Linked DNA regions of Homo sapiens. The protein of the gene in region 1 purifies or fractionates together with the protein of each later gene. This does not show direct contact. Each region holds a gene or a part of one and is shown in the gene's direction. Other genes may lie near its edges.

Region 1 (7,879 bases):
TCACTTGAGCCCAAGAGTTCAAGACCAGCCTGGGCTACATAGTGAGAACTCGTCTCTACAAAACAAACAAACAAACAAAATAGCTGGGCATTGTGGAACACTCCTGTGGTCCCAGCTACTGAAGAGGCTGAGGTTGTTACCGGTGGTGAATCCATATGGGTCTGCAGCAGCCTCAATTCTTGCCTCCTCAGAAGAAAGAATTTGACTGAGGGGCATGAAGCAGAAGAGATGGAGGCAAGTTTTAGAGCAGGAGTCAAAGGAAGGAAAGTACATGTGGAACAGGTCCAAGCAGGCAACTTGAAAACAAGTGTGAAGTTTGACCTTCTGACTTAGCATTTTATATGCTGGCATGCTTCTGGGGTCTTGCATCCCTTCTGCCCTGATTCTTCCCTTGGGGTGGGTTGTCCGCATGTGCAATGGCCTGCTAGTGCCTGGGAGGGGAGCATGCAGAGTGTGTTTACTGGAGTTGTACACATGCTCACTTGAGGCGTTCTTCCCATTCTGGTGGAATGCCCCTGGAAGGTCATATACCAGCTAAACTCTGCCATTTTGCCCTTTAATGCACATGCTGGAGCCCACTCACCCAATTCCTGAGATCTTATTGAGACGCTGCCACCAGTTTCAGGTGTTTTTATCTACTGGGAAACTGCCTTTCCCTGGTGCTGTTTGCAACCAATTATTATATTAGAGAGGCAGCGTGACAACTGCCTGACCATCACCCGATGGTCACCTGACATTCCTGGTGAGGTGCGGGAGAAGCCCTCTCCTGCCTTGCACATGCCTGGCTAGCCACCTACTGTAACAAGGGGAGAGGATCACTTGAGCCCAGGAAGCAGAGGCAACAGTGAGCTGTGATTGCACTACTGCACTCCAGCCTGGGTAACAGATTGAGACCCTACTTAAAAAGAAAAAAAAAGAAGAAGAATGAAAATTCCACAAACAATGGGCCCTGTGGGTCTCACCTACAACTAAACCTTAGGTCCAACCACTGTATTTTATACATTGGAAACAAGATATAATTTTTGATTGAAAAACTATAAGGTAAGCTCAGCAACCCCTGAAAAGAATTATTTGGCTGTTGTCACTACCTCATACCTGTGAACCCCGAAAATCTGAGACAGGTCTCAGTTAATTTAGAAAGTTTATTTTGCCAAGGTTGAGGATGCACCTGTGACACAGCCTCAGGAGATCCTGATGACATGTGCCCAAGGTGATCAGACCACAGTTTGGTTTTACACATTTTAGGGAGACATGAAACATCAATCAACATATGTAAGATGAACTTTGGTTCCGTTTGGAAAGGTGGGACAACTCAAAGCAGGGAGAAGGCTTCCAGGTCATAGGTAGATAAGAGACAAATTGTTGCATTCTTTTAAGTTTCTGTTAGTCTTTCCAAAGGAGGCAATCAGATATGCATTTATCTCAGTGAGCAGAGGGGTGACTTTGAATAGAATGGGAGGCAAGTTTGCCCTAAGCAGTTCCCAGCTTGACTTTTCCCTTTAGCTTAGTGATTTTGGGGGCCCAAGATATTTTCCTTTCACACACCCAATCTAAATAAAATCTATTTCATGTGTATTTTCCACTAGAAATTCAGGCTCCCGAAGGGCATAGTCTTACTCAGGTGGCAGAAAAACTGTAATTACTGCAAATGCCAGGTTTACCATAAACACATCTCTAAATGGAGTTCTCTAGGTCTTGACATAAATAAAAAGGGTTGATTCACACTGAACTTCTCCACTTCAAAAAGAAACAGAGTAGCAGAAGCACAAACCAGATTGCAGTGGGTTGGGGAGTGAATCACAGATATACAAAAATAGGAGGGACTGCTCTTATCCTGGACAGGAGTTTTAAAATCAGTCTTTGGTTAGCAGCATTTTTAGTAACATTTTTATACCATATAGTAACATTTTCATACCTATACTATGAATTATAAAAATAGTTTAATTCATATTACGGAAAAAATAGGAGTCACTTTGAAGGTATCTTTTACAATAAGCAATTCACAGAAGGGAAATCTGAATGCCACTTTCACATATGAAAAATGTTTGAACAGTAATGAGAGAAATAAACATTTAAACCACAGTGAATTACCATTTTATACCCAACCAATTGGCAAAAACAAATTTAAAGTTGGAAAACACCAACTGTGATGATAATATAGACCAACAAAAACCCTCAAACACTTGTAATGGAGAGACAACACAGCACTGTAGCTGAAAGCACAGACTCTAGAGCCATTGTGTATGGTTTCAAGTTATTGCTCTACTTCATAACTAGCTGTGTGACTTTGGGCAACTTACATAACATCTTGGTGCCATCTGTGAAACTGGAATGATGATAATAGATCCTACCTCGAGAGGACTAGTGTGAGTATTGATGAGTTACTATAACATGCTACATAAGTATTTGCTAGTATTATTATTACTGAAATAGAATAATGACTTTAGAGAGCAATTTGACTAGTGCTAATACAGTTGAAGCTGTGCATAGCATACAACCCAGCAATTTTGCTTCTGCGTGCACACCCCAAAGAAACACCTACAGGTGTACACAAGGAGGTATATGCAAGAATTTACATTGTAGCACTGTTTGTAATGGAGAAAACTGGAAATAGTCAAAATATCCATCTGCAGAAAAAAATGTTTTAAAAAATCTATGGTATATTCATATAATAGAATACTATAAAGCAGTGAAAATAAATAAATTAGTGCAGTAGTTCTCAAATTTTACCATGCACTATAATCACCTGGAGAACTTGTTAGAACACAGATTACTGGGGCCCACCTTCAGTTTTTGATTCAATAGGTCTGTAATGGGGCTCAAGGGTTAGCATTTTCCAAGTGATGTTGATGCTGCTGGTCCAGGACAACACTTTGAGAATCACTGAATTGGACCTTCATTGATCAACATGGACAAATCTTACAAACAGAATGTTGAGTGGAAAATGGAAGTTGCAAAAGAATACATATGCTTTGATACCATTTATGAAAAGTTTTAAAATATGGAAAAGAAATCATTTTACTGCATATGTATATATATCACATATACACATGCAGTAAAAATTTTCAATAAGATCACAAAGCTAGTCAGTTACAGGTCTAGGATTTGTACCTATGTGTATCCGTGAAATCGCCTTTGCAAACTGAAACCCCCTTTGCAAAAATTCTATCAGTGAGAAAATTATAGCAGTGGAGGAGATCTGATCTAGCCAAACCCCATCTTGCCTTTAGCTTTCAGTCTGTCCTTAATTATTCCTGGGCTTAAGCCAAGATAACTTTGGGAGACATTTAGTTTAATAGTTTAAATAATTACAGTCCTTCCCCAAAACTCAATTGCCTTTGTAAAGCTAATGAGAGACCACCAGACAACGGGGATAGATGAGCCTGAATTCTGTTAAGTGTAGACATAAGTGATTGCCAGCCATTATTCCAGAGGTCACAAGATATGCAACTTCCCCAATTACTCCTACAGATAACATCACTATTGTAGAATCTAGGATTGGCCTTTTTGGGTATATTTTTAAGTTTTTTGCATGTTTGACTACTGATGGCTCCACCTGGACCCACCAACTGTTCCTGTGGCTCCACCCAGAAACAACTCAGTAGGCAGGAGGACCATCTCCCATACCCCTATGACTGCACCAGTCAGCAGCAAGCACCCATTGCCTAGCCACCCCTACCCCTTTCCCCAGACTACCTTTGAAAAGAAACCTAGCCCCCAAATGCTCCAGGAGGCCGATTTGAGTAATAATATAACTGATTTGAGTAATAATAAAACTTCTTCCATTTTTCCACTCGATGTTGTGTAAAACTCTTTCTCCATTGCAATCCCTATACCTTGATAAATCATCTGTATCTGGGCAGCAGGCAAGAAGAATCCACTGGGCCACTATATCTGGATCTAAAGGCCATGTATTTTCCACTACAAGCTAATTAACAAGAGGTATCCTTTCCCCTCAGAAACAACTGGACACACCTGTGTAGATTCTACATAAAGAACAGCTAAAGAAAATCTGGTTAATACTTAGCCTAGTATACTTACCAGGAAATCAGCAACAGTCTTTCTCTGATATTCCTGAAATTGTAATCCCCACCTTACACTTGTATCACTTGTTTTCTAAATATTAATATACGGTAAAAATCAGGTGGCTGTGTGCTATGGGAAAATCTGGAGGAAAAGATAATTTTAAAAATATACTTTTTTGGCTCTGCTTGCTACTGAAAAAAAATTTTTTTAAGAAAATATACTCTTCCCTCCTTAACATTAAAGTGAATCCACAGAAGATGTGTTTGGTGAAGTGTCTGGTGGTGAATACTAAGTAGAAAGGGCAGACTAACACAGCCTTAGAGCCTGGATAAAATCCTGGTGTCCTGAAAGTTTGACCGTGGGAAATCTGGAGGATAAGGTCTATCTCTGGTCTGTCTATCTAACTTCTGCACCTTGCACATAGTAGAGGCCTGACAGATACATGCCAACCCATGTGTGCATGCAATAATTCAATCCACAATTAGGAACATTGTGCCAAAAGGAGACCCACCAACTAAAAAGAAATACAAATTCTTAGCTTTCTGTGACTACCCTTTACTGCCTTTGCTGGCGAAAACAAAGAAGAAAAGAGGAGGCTTCAGTATTCAAATACTGCCAGTTCCGCAGTGAATTCTAAAAATGGTTACTCTTGGGATACAAGGAACCCCCACGAGGATAAACAACCTCTGAGGTTACCTGAATGCCCCAGCAAAGGGCACGACTACTTCCGGAGCCGCACCGGAACCCCTTGGCGGATTATGTGGGTTCCTGCGGGAACGATTTAAGAATAGGACTACTTCCTGCTTCTGGATATGGGCCGGTGAAGGGAAAGGAAATAGCTCTACGAGCGGCATCCTGCCTGCGTTAGCGGCGGTGGAGGAGGAGGCAGAGAGGAGTGGAGGGCGGAGTAGACGGAGGAGGCTGCTGCAGAGAAGAAAGTGTCAGAGCCGGTAAGTGAGCCAGTCACCTTAGAGCAGGGGACAGCGGACAGCGCCCCAGGGCTCGCTTCGCAGATATGTGGTCCCAAGTTGCTGAGCTGCCCCATGGGGTCAGGTCGGTCGCCTGTCAGTCGGCGCCGAGAAGAGACTGTTGGGGCGCTGGGGCCGGGCCTCGCGGAGCGCCAGAGTGCGCTCTCGCTGGCTGACAGCCTATCTCGGGAGCCAGAGGAGGCCCCGGGCTTTGTCCTGCCTGGTGGTGCTGGGGTTTCGCATCCTGGACAGCTTCCCCAGACAGTGTTTGGAATTCAGGGAAGGAAGAAAGTACGTGCGCCCCCATTTAACCCTCGGGACCTGGCGAAATCCTGCTACGTGGGTAGTGAACATTGTATCGGGGACTGAAGGAAATGCTTGTAAAGAGTGTTAGTCTGGAGCCATACTTTCCCTGCCCTGTTCAAGCTCCCTGGACTGTCGGAAGCGGAGTTGTTTGTAAAGGCAAATGCAGACGCCTCCTCCTCCTGTCACTTCGGGACAAGTTAACAATCTTCAGATTCGTTATTAAAGCCTCGTGTACCCTATGTGATCTATCAGGTTAGTACTGCTGTGGGTATCTGGTGCTTGTTCTGTAAATATACTTGATGTCGAGATCACAGTTAAATATCTCCAAGCACTTTTTGAAGAGAAACAAGACTGACCTAACAGTCGGGACTATTTAGCATACTTTCCCTCACCTTTACTTTAATCGTTTTAGCATGCAGAGTAAGGATGGTAATCTTAAATGTACTAGATTAAGTTATTGTGCATCTGCAGAAGGCCTGTGGTATAATAGGATATGAAACTCTTGATAACTGACGAAATGAGTGAAATGATTATATAAAGATTGTTACTGTAAAGATCAGAAATAGCTTTTATTAAGTTCCTGCTTTTCTGTTGTCTTAGGTTCGGCTTTAGAGTGTGGTGAAGGGTACTTTTCATGGTGCATGGAAGGAAAGCCAATGCGCAGGTAGGCATTTAGGAAGAAAACCTTTGGTTTCACTGATTAAAATTCAGCATGTAATAATTTAAATTTTTAAAAAAGAGTTTCAATCTTACTAAATTCTGCTTGGAACTAATGAGTCTTGTTCTACAATAAATCAAAAGTAATATTAAGAATTAATAGCTTTTTAATAGAATAAAATACAGAAGTTGTTTCTGAAAAGTGCTGTGGATTGTATGTAGTGCTAAACACTTAAATTTTCCTTTTTTCATGTTTTTTACAGTAAATAATCATTAAGTTCATTATGATACTATATGGATTTATTATAATCTTCAGTTCCCTATAAAATGTAGAGGATTCTGTTCCCATGTAAGAATCATAATTATTTATAATATACTGTACTGCATGCCTAATTATGGTTTTGGTTATTTCCTTGATGTTCAATCATACATTTGTTCTGTTAATTAAAATAGCTGCATTGTAGGGAAGATTGTATAAGGACTAAAATAGGTATTAGACATAATAACTTAGTCCATAGAAAAATAGAACAATGTCTGGGAAAATATAGACAATAAATAGGCCCTCCCAACCCTAGAATTTAATAATGTTTTTTCTCATTTTGTTCTAACAAATGAGACTAGAATCTTTATGATACAAAATCATCCCAGTTCTATTTCTTTGGTTTTTACATTTGTTTTCTATTTATTGAACTCTATTTAATCATTTGTTATTTAACATCAAAGATAAACAACTTCTGCAGTTCTTTTAAGAGAAGAAACATTTTATAATGGGAATATGACTTATAACTCAGAACTTGGAGCAAGAACCAGAATGTATATCTTTATCCAAATCTGTTATTGGTTTATCAATTGACCTTGAGCTGTTCACCTTCTCTGTACCCCAGTTTACTTCTTTAGTGTATCTGATCAGGATATTGGGGATTAATGAACATTTGCAAATGCTTTAAGATCTCCAGATGAAAAGATGTTATCAAGATGAAAAATACCATTATCTTATTTATATTTTACTCTGTAGTAGGAATAATATTTTACCACAATGTACATGAAAAAATTAACAACATAATATTAAATACTTCATCCCTTTACTTCTAACATTATTGCAAAACCCACTGATTGTGTCTCATCTCCAGCTACCATAAAATGTCATATCTTATATAATTGCTAAAATAAGAGCTTATTATTTTTTAAAAGAATAGCAGAGTGTGGGAATGTTTTTGGTTTATCAGTAGTCTATATAAAATATTTGCTTAATCACTCATACCTGCTCCTTTTTTCTTGCTTTATTACATAATACTGTCAGCTATTCAGAATCATGCTGGATAATTCTAGTGCTGTTAATCGTTAAGCTACGGCTCTTTCTTCATCACTGTCACTTGGCCAGAGCCTAGCCTACTCACATTGGTCTCTGGTCTTACTTTCACCTGCTTCCTACATTCAATCATGGTCACACTTCCCTATCCTTTTCTTATTGGGCTGTCATTTTTGCTGATTTAACCCAGAAGGCAGTCTCTGTAATGCTGGGTTTATACTCAGTTGCTATTAAAGAAGCTTTGAGAAGTAACTTTTTATATTGAGACTATTTGAATACATGTTCATTCTGTCTACTAGATTGTGAGCTCTTTTAGTCTCATGTCTTCCTATATTTGCATCACTAGCACCTAACGATTACTGAATAATTGTTTGAATAGGACTGAACAGTTTCTGCAGACTTTCCCCCTCCAAAAAACAAAAAAAATCTATGAACAAGACTGAAAATTATTGTTAAAGGTATTCTAATTTTTGATTATAAAGTTTTATGAAATCAATTGGCATTTTATTAGTAAAGTTTCATTACCTCATTTATTTATGTACTATCATTTGCATAGCACAATGCAAAATTTAAAAGATACAATAGGATATTCAGTGAAAAGTTAACTCTCCCA
Region 2 (7,847 bases), on another chromosome or scaffold:
AGGCTGTTCTTGAACTCCTAGGCTCAAGTGATCCTCCTGCCTTGACCTCCCAAAGTGTTAAGATTACAGGCATGAGCTACAGTGCCTAGCCCACATTCTTTTCAAGTGCTCATAGAACATAAGACAGATGATTATCCTGCCATAAAACAAACCTCAACAAATTTAAAAGAACTGAAATCATACAGAGTGACATTCCCCAGCCACAATGAAATCAAGCTTGAAATCACTAACACAGAGATAACAGGAAAATCTCCAAATACTTGGAAACTAAACAACATGTTTCTAAATAATCCACGGAACAGAGAGGAAACCTTAAGGGAAATTAGAAAAAAAATAGGGAAATGAATGAAAATGAAAATATGACACACCAAAATCTGTGGATACAGCTATAGCCATGCTGAGATGTAAATTAATAGTACTAAGTCATATATTAGAAAAGGGGAAAAGTCTCAAACGAAAAAGGTAAACTCCTACCACAAGAACCTAGACAAAGTAGAGCAAAATAAAGCAAGCAGAAGAAATAATAAGGAGCAGAAACTGACAAAACTGAAAACAGAAAACACAGAAAGTCAATGAAATAAATAACTGGTTCTTTGAAAAGGTCAATAAAATTGACAAACTTCTAGCAAGATTGACAAGGGAGTGAGTGAGCAAGAGAGAGAGAGAGAGAGAGAGGAGAGAGAAGAGACGAGACACTGATACTGGAAATTTCCAATATCAGTAATGAAACGGGACAGTACTACAGACCCTGCAGACATCAAAGGGTAATATGGGAATGCTATGGTTTGAATATCCGTCCCTTCCAAAACTCATGTTGAAATTTAATTCCCAATGTATTGAGAAGTGGAGTCTTTATAAGCCCTCATAAATGGATTAATGGGTTATCATGGGAACTGGTGGCTTTATAAGAGCAAAACAGACCTCAGCTAGCACACTCAGCCCCCTGGCCCTGTGATATCCTGCACTGCCTTGGGACTCTGCAGAGTCCCCACCAGCAAGAAAGTTTTTTACCTGATGTGGCCCTGTGACCTTGGATTTCTCAGCCTCCATAACTGTAAGAAATACATCCTTTTTCTTTATAAATTACCCAGTTTCAGGTATTCTGTTATAAGCAACAGAAAACAAAGACAGGGAATACCACAAATAGCTTTACCCATATAAATTTGACAACTTTGATGAAGTGGTTAATTCCTCAAAAAACACAACCACAATAGGAAAGAGATTATTTTAACAGCTTTATAACTTTTAAATAAACTGAATTTGTCACTTAAAAACTCCAGAAAAAAAAGGAAGAAGGGAAGGAAGGGAGGGAGGGAGGAGGGAGGAAGGAGGAAGGAGGGAGGGAGGGAAGCAGGGAGTGGAGGGAATCTCCAAACCAAGATGGTTTCATTGGAGAATTCCGCCAAACATTTAATGAAGAATTAACACCAATTCTGCACATACTCTTCTAGAAAAAGAAGAAACACTTTCCAATCCATTTTATAAAGCCAGTATTATCCTGATACCAAACCAAAGGCAATACAAAAATTAAAAAAATCTATAGACCAATTTCTCTCATGAGTATAGATGCAAAAATCCTAAAGAAAATATTAGGAAATTCAGCAGTATGTAAAACACACACACACACACACACACACACACACACACCATGATAAAGTGGGGTATATTTCAGAGATGCAAGACTGGCTCAATATTTGAAAATCAATTAGAGTTGTTAATACTAACAAGCTATTAACAAGCTTAAGAAGAAAAATCACATAATCATATCATCCTCACCTTTCAGACCTCTATATGTTGAAGAATCCTAGGACTCAGTCTCTTTTTACACCTTATTCCGTTATGACTCTCACATTTTTATCTCTAACCCAGATAGCTCTTCCTTGAATTCCAGACCCATAAACCCAACTGCCCCTTAGACATCTATACTCAGATAGGCATTTCCAAATGGACATGTCCAAATACAAATGCTTGCTCTTACTCTCCAAACCCACTCTTTTCTGTAATTCAGTAAATGGAAGCGCTATTCTTATAGTTGCTTAGGCCAAAACCCTTGGAGCTATCTCAACTCTCATATGTCTTTCACACCCCATATCCAATCTATCAGCGGATCCTGTTACCTCTTCCTCTAAAATATCCCCAGAACTGTCCCTTTCTTACCACTTCCACAGATACCACCCTGGTTTGAGTTATCCTTTCACCTGGGTTACTACAACAGCTGCCAAACTGGTCCTTCCTGCTTCTACCTTTGCACTCTTACTGTCTTATTTTCTACCTAACAGCCACAATGCTCCTTCTTTGTGCAAAACTGCCCAGTGGACTTCATTTCATTCAGAGTAACATCTAAAGTCTATACTATTGCCTACAAGTCACCATGTGATGCAGTCCCTTCGTACTTTTCTGAACTAATTTCCAGCCACCCTTCTAGTTCATATCACTCCAGCTTTATTGTCCTCTCTGCTGTTGCTCCAAAATGCCAACAATGGTATAAACTTGGTTTTCCCTCTTCCTGGAACAATGGCATATGGCTTGTCTCTCAAATGACATCTTATCAATGAGGCCTTCTCTGAGAAGCATAAGTAAAAGACTACCCACCTACACATATACATTCCTTATCCTCCTTATCTCCTTGATTTTTATTGAAGTTACTTACCACTTTCTGACTTATTCTAAACTTGCATGTTTGTTTTTCTATCTTTCTCAGTAGAAAGTAAGTTCCTGAGAACGTGGATTTTGTCTGTTAGCTTAGAAGAGTGCTTTGGACATAGGTGCTGAAAAATTATTTTCCGAATGAATGAATAAACTATTGGTTCAGGAGGCAAGAATTTGGGATCAGACATAAGATAACCCTAATTTGACTCCTGGCTCTGCTATTTCCTAACTATGTCCAAGTACATAGGGTACTTAACCATGCTTTACATTTTCTCGTCTATCAAATAGTGATTGTAATAATTTCAACTCCTAAGACTGATGTAAGAATTAAATTTAAAAAGTATGTAATGTGCTTAATAGACAGTGACTTGGTATAAAAGTGCTCAGTATATGACAGTGTTATTAATATGGAAAGATGATCTAGATTTCGACACAAAAGCCCTCAGTTATGACTAGATACTCACTGTATGATTTTAGGTTACTCACCTCTTTTACACTAACTCACTTGATAAATCAGGAACTGGGGCCAAAAAGATGGCTAAGTTGCAGCCCCTTCCCTCAAGTCTTAGTAATGTGATCTTGGGTAGGTCACTTAACCTCTCTGAGCCTGTTTCCTACGCTGTCCAAAGGGGGATAATATAATACCTCACAGCTTTGTTGTGAGGATTAAATGAGTTACTGTGTGGGAATTGTGTCTAGCACATAGTAACCTCTCACTGCGTTAGCTATGATTATGATTCCAGTCTGGAGGAAGGGTAAAAGCATGTAAGCAAAGAACTGCAATACAGTGCAATAAGAGCAAAAGCAGGCATCAACTAGAAGAACGTCTCCTAAACTAGAGTCTGCCCACAACTAGGAAGTTATACCACGATCAGGAAATTTTAAAACCCTCTTATGTCTATAACTTAACTCCCTACCATCACCCCCGTGGCAGTAAGAAAAACAAAATTTCTCTGCTGCTTTGATACCTGGGATTTAAAACTTAAAAAAAAAATAGGGTCAAGGTTTAGAGTCTCAGATAGTGTTTTGTTTTGTTTCAGAGAAGAGTCTCGCTCCATCGCCCAGGCTGGAGTGCAGTGGCACGATCATAGCTCACTGTAACCTCTAACTCCTGGGCTCAAGGTATCCTCTCGCGTAGCTGGAACTGCAGGTGAGCGTCACCATGCCTGGCTAATTTTCGCTGTTACCCAGGCTGGTCTTGAACTCCAGTCCTCAAGCTATCCTCTCGCCTCGGCCTCCCAAAGGGTTGGGATTACAAGCAAGAGACGTTGCGCCAGGCCTCAAATAGTGTGTCTCAACATGAGGTCAACAGACACATTGGGAAGGCTAAGTTAGTTCCCTCCACCTTTTCCCTAAAGTTAACACCTCACTTAAGTTCGAAAAAGTCAACTGGACCCGCAGACGGCAAAAGCAGCACGTAATAATACCCTGAGTGAGAACCCACTTAAGAGCCGAGAGCCCAAATGTGTGTTTCATGACGGCGCTGTTACAGACTAAAAGGTCAAAACAGGACATTAAAGGGTGCTCCGGGGGGCTGAGTAGGAGCTCACCAGGTGAGAAAGGGGATGTCACTTTCGGACAGAGAACGAGCGCCAGGGCGTGGAGGCGTGAAAAGGGCACGTGGGTGGCTTGGAAGAACCAAAACTAAGTGTTTTGGGGGACAGCCAGAGAGCCGAACACATATGGAGGAAAGATGCGGCCTGGGGCCCGCCAGATTAGAAAGGAAATCCCCCTCCCATATCCAGATCATGATCTCTCAGACTCAATGTCCCCTCAGGATACCCCTCTACAGGGTCCCAGCTGCTGGGCTCCCTCTGGTTCCCGCCACTCTTCCCTTACCTCGTCTTCCAGCCTTTCTCTCACTCTCCCGCCTCCTCTGCCTCGCCGGAAGTGACGCGCTAAGTAGCGCGCCGTATCGCGCCAGAAAGGTTCCGAGGGAGCGGGAAAAAGGGTTCCGGCGAGATCCACTGCGCCGGTGTGCAGGCTCGAGCGGTCAAAGCTCTTTCCGGGGGCCCGGGGAACTACTCTCCTTGCCTCGCTCTGTCTCCTTCGAAGTGCTCTGCGCGAGGTTCAGAGCGGCCGCCGCCTCCAAAGGGACGGTTTTCTAGAGCTCCGACGCCTCTCGGTGCCCCTCTGCTCCGGCCCTTGCCCTTTGACCTCGCTCTCGCGGCAGGGTGAGAGGTCGGGTGGCCATCTTGTGGCGGCGGCGCGGGCGGCTGTTACTGCGGAGACCCATCCCCTCCCCCTTCTCGCACCCCTGGCAGTCTGTCAGTCGGTAAAAAGTCCCGCAGCCTGTCAGGTGAGGCCCCGGCCTCGTGCCGTCGCTCTTCCCGCCGCACTGGGCGGCCCAGGCCGCTCCCTGCCGGGCCTCACTGCCGCCACCATGTCCTCCTTCTCTGAGTCGGCGCTGGAGAAGAAGCTCTCGGAGCTGAGCAACTCTCAGCAGAGCGTGCAGACCCTGTCCCTTTGGCTCATCCACCACCGCAAGCACGCGGGACCCATCGTCTCCGTGTGGCACCGCGAGCTCCGCAAAGGTAAACACCAAATCCCCACCCCCTGGACGGTCCCCGGATTGTCCTCTCGCCCACATACAACCTAGGCCCCTCTAAGCCTCTTCATTGAGCCTTGCTTTCCAGGCCTGATCGAGCTTCTGAGATGGGAGACAAAGTTAGCCCCATTTCTCGAAGAAGGAAACTGAGGCCCGGGAAGGTTTAAGGTACTTGCCTGAGGGTCCACGGACTGGGACTCAGGTGTCCAGACTTCTAGTTCATCAAGCCATTTTCCCTTCAGTTTCCCCCTGACATTTGTGGCTGTTATTATCTCGGCTGCATTCACTGCCGTACTGGCCCTAGCATGTCGGGCCCAGTGCTGGGTATTTGGAGTAAAAGCCAGTGGGCTCCGGAGTCAGACTCTGCAGATCGAGTCCTGGCTCAGCTATTTGCCAGCTGAATAATACTGGGAGAGTTTCTTCATCTCCCTGTGTCTCCGTTTTCTCATCTGTAAGAGGGAGGCAAGGATAGCTACCCCTTACAAAGCCTTTACTTCATACCAGTCACTATACTAAGACCTTTGTGTGTATCCTCGCACTCAGTCCTTAGAACAGCCCTGTGAAGTAGGTAGTCTCTCCCATCTTAGGTTAAGGGGCCACCCAGACCTTACCTCTCCTCTCCTCTCCTCTCTCATGCAGTTGTCATTGATTTCAGGCCCTGCTCAGGTTCTGACAGACAATTCATTGAACTCATTCTGTTATGTGCCAGGCACTGGCTTGGACACTTGCAGCATGTTGCCTCTGCCAACTGCCTAGAATTTAAGCCTGACTTTGCCGCCTTACTGACCCCAGCAACTTAACCTGTCTGTGCCTTAATTTTCTTATCTACAGAATGGATAACTGAAATTTACTATGTCTTTATTACATGCGAAGTGCAGTACTGATATCTTTACATACATTGCCATTAAAAAAAATTCTCGGAGCCCTATGAAGTAGGAACTTTGCAGAAGAGGAAAAACTGAGACTCATCTCGTGGTGAGGAGTAAACGGGATAATCCAAATGAACATTTAGCATGGGGTGAGGCACAGTGTAGGCATTCAGCAGATTATGGTGAGATGAGACTTTTGATTACTCACTGTGAGGCATGGTCTTTACCTTCAAGTTGCTTACAGTCTGGTGGGGAAAGATGGACACCTACACTCCCGGATGAGTTTCATAATGGAAGACTGAAGAAATGAAGCTCAGAGCTGCTCCAGACACCCTATATGTGGTAGGCCTTTATAGCGAAGTGGCTTTACAAGTGTTCTATACTATCTGTGAGTTGGGGACACCACAGATGTCCTGCTCTACAGGTGAGGAAACTGAAGTGGCTAAGTGGTATTTTCAAGGCTTTCGAACTGAACAGGCTCAGACTACAACAGGCTGGCAAACACCAAAATCTTCATGATTTTTTTCAGGAGACCCAGTTCTAGCCCTTTAGCAGGGACTGCCCCCAAATATCGCGTACTGTACTGAGATAGGGATCCCCTCAGCCCTTCGGGCAGTTCCGGGAAGAGGTAGAGCCTGGAGTTTATGGGGCCTTCTTCATGTACCCCACTGTGCCATTCAGAAATTATTTGAAGAGTGTGCTGAAATGTGAATTGCCACTGTACAGAATTCTATTGGGTGGGACCTCAAGAGGCAGTTAAAGTCCATCTCAGGTGTCATTTTTTTTGTTTTTTTTTTTTTGAGATGGGGGTCTCGCTCTGTCACCCAGGCTGAAGTGCAGTGGTGCGATCTCAGCTCACTGCAAGCTCCACCTCCCGGGTTCATGCCATTCTCCTGCCTCAGCCTCCCGAGTAGCTGGAACTACAGGGGCCCGCCACCACACCCAGCTAATTTTTTGTATTTTTAGTAGAGATGGGGTTTCACTGTGTTAGCCAGGATGGTCTTGATCTCCTGACCTTGTGATGCCCCCGCCTCGGCCTCCCAAAGTGCTGGTATTACAGGTGTGAGCCACCACGCCTGGCCAAGTGTCACTTCTTTTGTGACACTTTCTTGATTCCTTGCCTCACCCTAGTTGAGTTACTGAAAAAAAGCAAATTAGAGAGTACATTTGTGTATGAAGCTCCGTTATCCCTAATCTTACGTGGTAAAGCCTTATGTTGCAAGTAGGCTAGCATTATTATCCTCATTTTATAGATGAGATGATAAAGGTATAGAGGGATTAAGTGCCTTGTCCACAGACATACAGCTAGGACATGAGCCCAGGGCTGCCTGATGCCAAAATGTGTTCTTTTTCATGTACTCAGTGCCTCAATGCATTTAATAAGTGAAGGTGGTCACCTGACTGCAATCAAACTGTGGTGCTTTCATTTATTAGAATTAATGAGTGCCTCCCACCCCATCATACCAGTTTAGCATTTAATTTGTTCCTACTAGCTGTTCATTTGAACTGGTTACATCTTTGTCATTAGATTATGTTTTGAGAGAGGAACTAGACCTTCTTGTTTATTTGCAACACCACAGGATATCGCGTGGTGCCTGTTATATAGTTTAAAAATAGGAATTAAATCATGGTCTCTGATAGAATTTTCGTGGTTGAGTAAAGGATCTAAACAGCGCTATCCAATACAACTTTCTATGATAGCAGCATAAAGGATATAAACAGCGCTATCTAATACAATTTTCTGTGATAATAGCAATGTTTTCTATCTGTGCCATCCAACA
Region 3 (7,021 bases), on another chromosome or scaffold:
GAATTGTTTGAACCCCGAGGTGGAGGTTGCAGTGAGCCAAGATTGCGCCACTGCACTCCAGCCTGGGTGACAGGGCGAGACTCCGTCTCAAAAAAAAAAAAAAAAAAGAGGTCGTGAAGCTGAATGATGCCAGTTTGTTTCTTTACAAAGGGACCAGGCCTTTCCAGTAATTAGACTGCTCAAGTCTGCTATCAAGGGAACTATCAGCTTGCTCAGTGAGTCTCTATCCCTATTTGATACCCTAATTGAATAAATGCCATATTTATACTCATGCGTCTTGTACCCTGTGAGATGGGTACTGTTGATTACCCTCGTTGATGGATGAGGGACAGGCATGGAGAGGTGAAATAAGCCTGTTCAACATCACCCAGCTGATGAGAAGCAGTGGATCTAGGAATGGAGCCCGAGCAGTCTCGCTCTCAGGGCCCTGTGTGGAGTCACTGTGCTGTCCCAGCTCTGGAGACGCAGAATTCCACATGAGGAATGTGGAATTCAGCATGGGGATGACGCTGCTTCACCCAGACTTGGAGGAGCGTGGTGAATTGCCCGTGCCCATGCTCTGATGTGCCTCTCTGGCCGCTGCGTTCCTCCTTTCTCCCTGCCCTGGGTCAGTGCCTGTAAACACTGCCCTAAATCAGCAGGGCCCCCGTCACTTCTGCTTTATGCACCTTTTTCCTCAGACACATTAATACAGGGGAGTTTTGTTTCCAAGGGACCACATCCAGATGGAGGGGCTGTTTTTGGTGATCTGCACTGCCAAATGCCCGAGTGTCCCTGACAGTCGGAGCTGATGAGGCCAAGGCTGTGTGTGGTTCCTCTGGATGGCCAGAAGAGGAACCAAAACACTGAATTCTGGGCCTTCTTAAGAGTGGTGATCAGCACATTGTGATAGAAGCATATCTGGGAATGAACTTGGCCTCAAGCTTTTGGCCTTTTAATTTTTTTTTTTGTAAGCAAAAGCAGCTTTATTAAGAAAACAAAGGAATAAAAGAATGGCTACTCCACAGGCAGAGCAGCTCTTTTACATTTTTTATAGAGATGAGGTCTCACTGTGTTGCCCAGGTTGGTCTTGAACTCCTGGCCTCAAGCAGTCCTCTCACCTCAGCCTCCCAAAGTGCTGGGATGGCAGATGTGATCCACTATGCCTGGCCAAGCTTTTGGCCTTCTGACCAGCCTCATATTGTAGAATTTTTAGAAAGTCTAAGTGGTGTGGGTGAGCCTGTGGCTCCTGGGTAATTTTCCAGGTCAGGGCTGTATGGAAGCTTCCTGCCAAGAGCTTCTAGCACTGTGGGGAGTGGCTTCTGTGAGTGCGCGTTCAGGCTGTGTGTTTTTCTCTCCCCCTGCCCCTTCCCTATGGGATGTCACTGGCAGCCGGCAGCCTTTTTGGCTCCAGACCTCTAATAGAATTAGAGAGCTGGGAGGCATCGAGGGTTCATGCTCTCAGCAAGTTGTCAACCTCTTGGGGCTTCTTCAGAACATTGCAGGTCTGGCTTCTCAGATTCTTTTCTGTCTCTTCGTTTAGGCTGGGCTAAGCAGTTCCAAGCTTTCCATGTCCAAGGCCCTCCCTCTCACCAAAGTGGTTCAGAATGATGCATACACAGCTCCTGCTCTCCCTTCCTCTATTCGAACAAAAGCCTTGACCAACATGTCCCGGACACTGGTGAACAAGGAAGAACCCCCCAAAGAGCTGCCAGCTGCTGAGGTGAGGTGATGGTGGTGACTGCAGCAGTTGGGGTCAGGAGGGCTGTATGCTTATATGTACCTCATTGTGTTCCCCACAACGCCTTTGTGAGGTGGGCATTGCCACCCCCATTCTACAGATGAGCAAACCAAGACCTAGGGACTCTTACCCTCAAAGACCTTGCAGGCTAGTGGGGACGGCAGACCTGCTGAGAGATTGCGGTATCTGGTGATATGTTAGACTCTCTCAGAAGAAAGCTATTAGGAGGGCTGAGGACAGATTATCTCATTCCAGTTGGGAAGTCTGGGAAAAAGGGCTCTTTTAGCTGAGTGGGTCTGGAAGCATGAGTAGCCTTCCAGGTAGAGGCTCAGGGCCTGAGAGGCTTGCGTATTTGGGAGATGGGAGAGGGTCCATGCTTTTAGCATAGAGTGATGGGGGGTGTAGTGGACACTGAAGTTCAGGGGGCCCATTTGTGGTAACTCTCCATGGAGCTTTCCTCTGGGCCTTCCTAGTCACGTGCCTGGAGGAATTTCTGTTGTGGGAATGCTTATCAGCCATCTGGCTTCTGGTAATGCTCTTGTCTGTGTGGCAGCCTGTTCTCAGCCCATTGGAAGGCACCAAGATGACTGTGAATAATCTGCACCCTCGAGTCACTGAGGAGGACATTGTTGTAAGTACTGTGACCTACCAAACATTTAAATCTCAAACTGCCTCTGTGGCAAAGGTCTCTTAAGACCCACCCTCAGGTTTGATGACTGCTAGGACTCACCAGACTCAGCATATAGTCACGCTCAGGGCTGAGACTAATGACAGCAAAAGGATGCAGAGCAAATGGCTCATGGGGTGAAGTCGGGGGGAAACGAGGCACAAGCCTCCAGAGGCCCCTCCCAGCAGAGTCGCACAGGATGCTGGGTGCAACTCGCAGCAAGTTGTGACAATACATGTGACACCAGGGAAGCTCATTAAAGACTCAGTACCCAAAGGTTTTACTGGGGGCTGGTCACTTCGGCATTCTCTGTGTAGCATGTACTAAAATTCCAGACTCCCAGAGGGAAAGCAGCTGTTGAGCAGAAACCATGTTGTTTGCACAGTCCAGGCACAGTGAACTGTGGGGTGGCAGGAGCCCTCCTGAGATCCGAGTTCTCAGATGCCAGCCAAGGGCCACCCCTGGAATCGGACCTTTCAAACAATAGCAGTCAGCCCAGCTGCTTCACTCTTCTGCACAGCTTCTAGCCAAGGCCAGGTGCCTGGCCTGAATCTCAGAGTCAGGGGATATCTATGCTATAATGGGTCCTAAATGGGATCCTTTAGTCCCACTGGGCAGTATCCAATAGTTGTGTTTTCCTGTGTCCTTTGGAGGTATTACAAGATGATTCCAAAGTGAAAGAAGTGAGATGGATTGGTGGTATCCACCTTCCTGGTCCATCCCGTCCCACCCATGGCAGTCATGGGCAAAACCTGTCAAATGTCTGTGAGCGGGGTTCTGGATGCAGCTAGGACTTCTTTTCAACATCATTTTCATTCAGGCACCCAAAAGAGCCATTAGTTTAGAAATCCAGGCATCCTTTGAACTGTCAGATCACAAAATGAATACGTTTGGAGAATCCAGCCTCTCCCTGCAGTTAAGTCCCAGACTAACAGACTGCACTGGTCACTACATTTGTTAAATCTTTTTGTTTTGTTTTGTTTTGTTTTTGAGATGGAGTCTCACTCTGTCACCCAAGCTAGAGTGTAATGGTGTGATCTCGGTTCACTGCAACCTCTGCCTCCCAGGCTCTAGCAATTCTCCTGCCTCAGCCTCCCGAGTAGCTGGGATTAGAGGCGCCTGCCACTACGCCTGGCTAATTTTTGTATTTTCAGTAGAGGCAGGGTTTCACCATGTTGGCCAGGCTGGTCTCGAACTCGTGACCTCAAATGATCCACCCACCTCGATTTGTTTTTTTTAAAGATGGAGTCTTGCTCTGTCGCCCAGGCTGGAGTGCCAGTAGTGCGATCTTGGCTCACTGCAACTTCCGCCTCCTGGGTTCAAGTGATTCTTATGCCTCAGCCTCCCTGGTAGCTGGGATTATAGGCGTGTGCCACCACACCCGGCTAATTTTTGTATTTTTCAGTAGAGACGAGGTTTCACCATGTTGGCCGTGTTGGTCTTGAACTCCTGACCTCATGATCTGCCTGTCTTGGCCTCCCAAAGTGCTGGTATTACAGGTGTGAGCCACTGTGCCCAGCTGAGGTTAAATCTTAATTGTGAAACACACGCATGCCGTGAGATGGGTCACTCGTATCTCCTTCTCCTTTAGCAGGGACAGTACTGTGAATGGTGCACGTGAGGATGGAAATTGTAGCCTATTTTGTGTAATACTTGACAAGTCATTAAGAATTAAAGCTGATTGCCGGGTGCAGTGGCTCACGCCTGTAATCCCAGCACTTTGGGAGGCCAAGGTTGGTGGATCACCTGAGGTCAGGAGTTCGAGACCAGCCTGGCCAACATGGCAAAACCCTGTCTCTACTAAAAACAGAAAAATTCGCCAGGCGTGGTGGCACGTGCCTGTAGTCCCAGCTACTCAGGAGGCTAAGGCAGGAGAATCACTTAGAACCTGGGAGGTGAAAGTTGCAGTGAGCCGAGGTCACGCCATTGCACTCCAGCCTGGGTGACAGAGTGAGACTCTCTCAAAAAAAGAAAAGAATTAAAGCTGTTAAGGAGCGTAATAACAACTGCCATTTACTGAGTACTTGCTATGTGCCAGTCACTTTAGGCAGACTCTTGGAAGATACATAATGGTGGAAAACTAAACACCAGTCATGATCAGTGCTCAGGGGAAATTGCTAGTAATAATCACCCTCGCTTCTCTTCTACCCAAATAGGCAATGTTAAAAGGACAATGGTAATAAAATTGGAATTACACCTACTATTTATAGTTGGCCCTCCATATCTGTCGGTTCTGCATCTGTGGATTTAGCCAACCACTGAATGAAAATACTCAAATTTTTAAAAATAACAGTATGATGAGAAATAATACAAATTTTAGAAATACAGTATAACTATTTATATAGCATTTACATTGTATTTGGTATTATAAGTAATCTAGAGATGATTTAAAGTATAGTGGATGATGTGCATAGGTTATGTGTAAATACTACAGCATTTTATAGCAGGGACTTGAGCATCTACAGATTTTAGTATCTGCGAGCGGTTCTGGAACCAGTCTCCTGCAGGTGCAGAGGGGCATCTTGTTTTGATATTTACCATTAAAAACAAACCATGTCAAGGACCTTTTCATAAACCTTCTTTTGGCCCTCACAGCAACCTTGTGAAGGCAGTTGCAGGTGAAGAAATGGCGTGAGTGCTAGTCAGCCTCTGTCCATCTTCACATTTTGCTCCCTCTCTGGCCTTAGTCGTCTTGTCTGTAAAATGAGGTGGAGATCGGACTCAATGATGTGTGCAAAGCACTGCCTTAAAAATTATCTCAGTTGAGCTTTCCAGTAAAGCTGGGAAGTAAGCTAGTCCTTTTTATTTTCAGAGGAGGAAACAGGCTCAGAGAAGTTAAGTAATTTGCTAGACGTCTCATAGCAGATAGAAAGCAGAGCCTGGGGGATCAAACTCAGGTCTGACTTAGAGTGACCAACTGTCCCTGTTTTGCTGGGGACTCTCCTGGTTTCATCACTCAAAGTCTCATGTCCAGGGAAACCCTTCAGTCCAGCCAAACCAGGACTCTGGGTAGAACTCCAGAATTTGTATTTGTAACAGATTCTCAGGTGACATATTAGCAGCTGTCTTTCTTTGTATACATGTATTCTAATGACAGGGCTCTTTGCGAAAATTTTCATAACTGTTTTATCCCTGTTGAGGTGGGCACTGAAGACTTTGGTGGTGGCTTGCTGGGAGATCCCAGGTGATCCAAGGCTTGTAAACCCAGCCCCTTTCCCACTGCTGACCTCATCTGGTGCTGTGTTGAAGCCTGTGGATGTCTCCAGAGCACCACCTCGCGTGGAGCCTCCCCGCAGTCTCAGGCGCAGGGCGCATTTAGCTGCAGCGGAACCACCACACCCCAGGGCCTTCAGAGTGTGTGAGCGGCAGGTGCTGAGAAATCCTTCCCCAATCCCAACCCCTCTTGTTGTGTGCAGGAGCTTTTCTGTGTGTGTGGGGCCCTCAAGCGAGCTCGACTGGTCCATCCTGGGGTAGCGGAGGTGGTGTTTGTGAAAAAGGACGATGCCATCACCGCATATAAGAAGTACAACAACCGGTGTCTGGACGGTAAGTTAGGGAGAAAGCAGTCCCCTGACCCTCCCACTCATCTCTACTTGCTGTCAGGTAGCAGGCCTTCCAGGGGAAGTCTCTGTGAGATGGGTGGAACCCATCTCTGGGGCCTCGTCTGCACCAGGAACTGCCGTGCAGTCTCTGAGTAGTCCTGAGCTGTGGGTTACACAGGGCCCTGGATTTTCACCCAGCCCTTAAGCTTTTGAGCCCAGCAAAAAGGAAAACAGCATTTCTCCATGGATGGTTCTCTTAAGGGGTCTTGCCAGGGGAGCCAAGAGGCACAGCTGTTGCCTCCCAGATGTTGATCTGTTTAGTGCTAGGGCAGAAGTTCCTCCCAGCCCTGGAGTTTTGTCTGAATGTTGACACCTGGGTGAGAGCTGCTCCTGGTGGGTAAACAACAGACTTTATTGACTTGAGGTTCATATTTTTCATCTCCAGACAGCCTGTAGAGAAGAATTCTGTCTGCCATGCTCCTTTTCCACTCATTTGTTCTTTCAGTATGTATTGAGTGCCTACTGTGGACCAAGGCCCTGTGCTAGAAGTGGAGAAGCAGAGACTAATAAAACAATACAACAATAAAAAAAATTACAAATAAAAGACCTGGAGCCTTGGCTAAATCTTGGCACCTGGGTGAACTCCCCTGGGTGAGTCAGTGGAGTTCTGATTTGCATTTCCCCATGGCTAATGATGTTGAGCACCTTTTCATGTGCTTATTGGCCATTTGTATGTCATTAAAGAAATTAATTTTGTTTTGAATTTCTGTTCTTTTTTTGTTTTTTCTTATTTTTTGTCATATGTTTGGATGTGGAAAGATACTTATTTTCCTTTTTCTTTCTTTTTTTTATTTTTATTTTTTATTATTTTTTTATTTTTTTATTTTTTTTGAGTTTCTCTCTGTTGCCCAGGCTGGGGTGCAGTGGCGTGATCTCAGCTCACTGCAACCTCCGCCTCCCCGGTTCAAGCGGCTTTCCTGCCTCAGCCTCCCAAGTAGCTGGGACTACAGGTGCACGCCACCAAGCCCAGCTAATTTTTTTGTATTTTTAGTAGAGATAGGGTTTCACCATGTTGGCCGGGCTGGTCTCAAA

The links. The genes of interacting proteins can lie anywhere in the genome.
Region 2: the proteins of KLHL20 (region 1) and RPRD1B purify together in Homo sapiens (affinity purification with mass spectrometry; 2 studies listed by BioGRID and IntAct, with this or other methods). This does not show direct contact.
Region 3: the proteins of KLHL20 (region 1) and POLDIP3 purify together in Homo sapiens (affinity purification with mass spectrometry; 3 studies listed by BioGRID and IntAct, with this or other methods). This does not show direct contact.

Annotation. Positions count from the first base shown.
Region 1 is NC_000001.11:173,710,103-173,717,981, forward strand, and holds the start of KLHL20 (kelch-like protein 20), read left to right. Parts: upstream 1-4,878; 5' UTR 4,879-4,976; exon of another isoform or gene 4,977-5,368; coding exon of another isoform or gene 5,369-5,552; intron 5,553-5,900; coding exon of another isoform or gene 5,901-5,941; coding exon 5,942-5,964; intron 5,965-7,879. UniProt on the Homo sapiens protein: Substrate-specific adapter of a BCR (BTB-CUL3-RBX1) E3 ubiquitin-protein ligase complex involved in interferon response and anterograde Golgi to endosome transport.
Region 2 is NC_000020.11:38,028,916-38,036,762, forward strand, and holds the start of RPRD1B (regulation of nuclear pre-mRNA domain-containing protein 1B), read left to right. Parts: upstream 1-4,830; 5' UTR 4,831-5,032; coding exon 5,033-5,183; intron 5,184-5,190; exon of another isoform or gene 5,191-6,490; intron 6,491-7,847. UniProt on the Homo sapiens protein: Interacts with phosphorylated C-terminal heptapeptide repeat domain (CTD) of the largest RNA polymerase II subunit POLR2A, and participates in dephosphorylation of the CTD by RPAP2. Transcriptional regulator which enhances expression of CCND1.
Region 3 is NC_000022.11:42,590,867-42,597,887, reverse strand, and holds part of POLDIP3 (polymerase delta-interacting protein 3), read left to right. Parts: intron 1-1,522; coding exon 1,523-1,702; intron 1,703-2,273; coding exon 2,274-2,351; intron 2,352-5,803; coding exon 5,804-5,933; intron 5,934-7,021. UniProt on the Homo sapiens protein: Is involved in regulation of translation. Is preferentially associated with CBC-bound spliced mRNA-protein complexes during the pioneer round of mRNA translation. Contributes to enhanced translational efficiency of spliced over nonspliced mRNAs.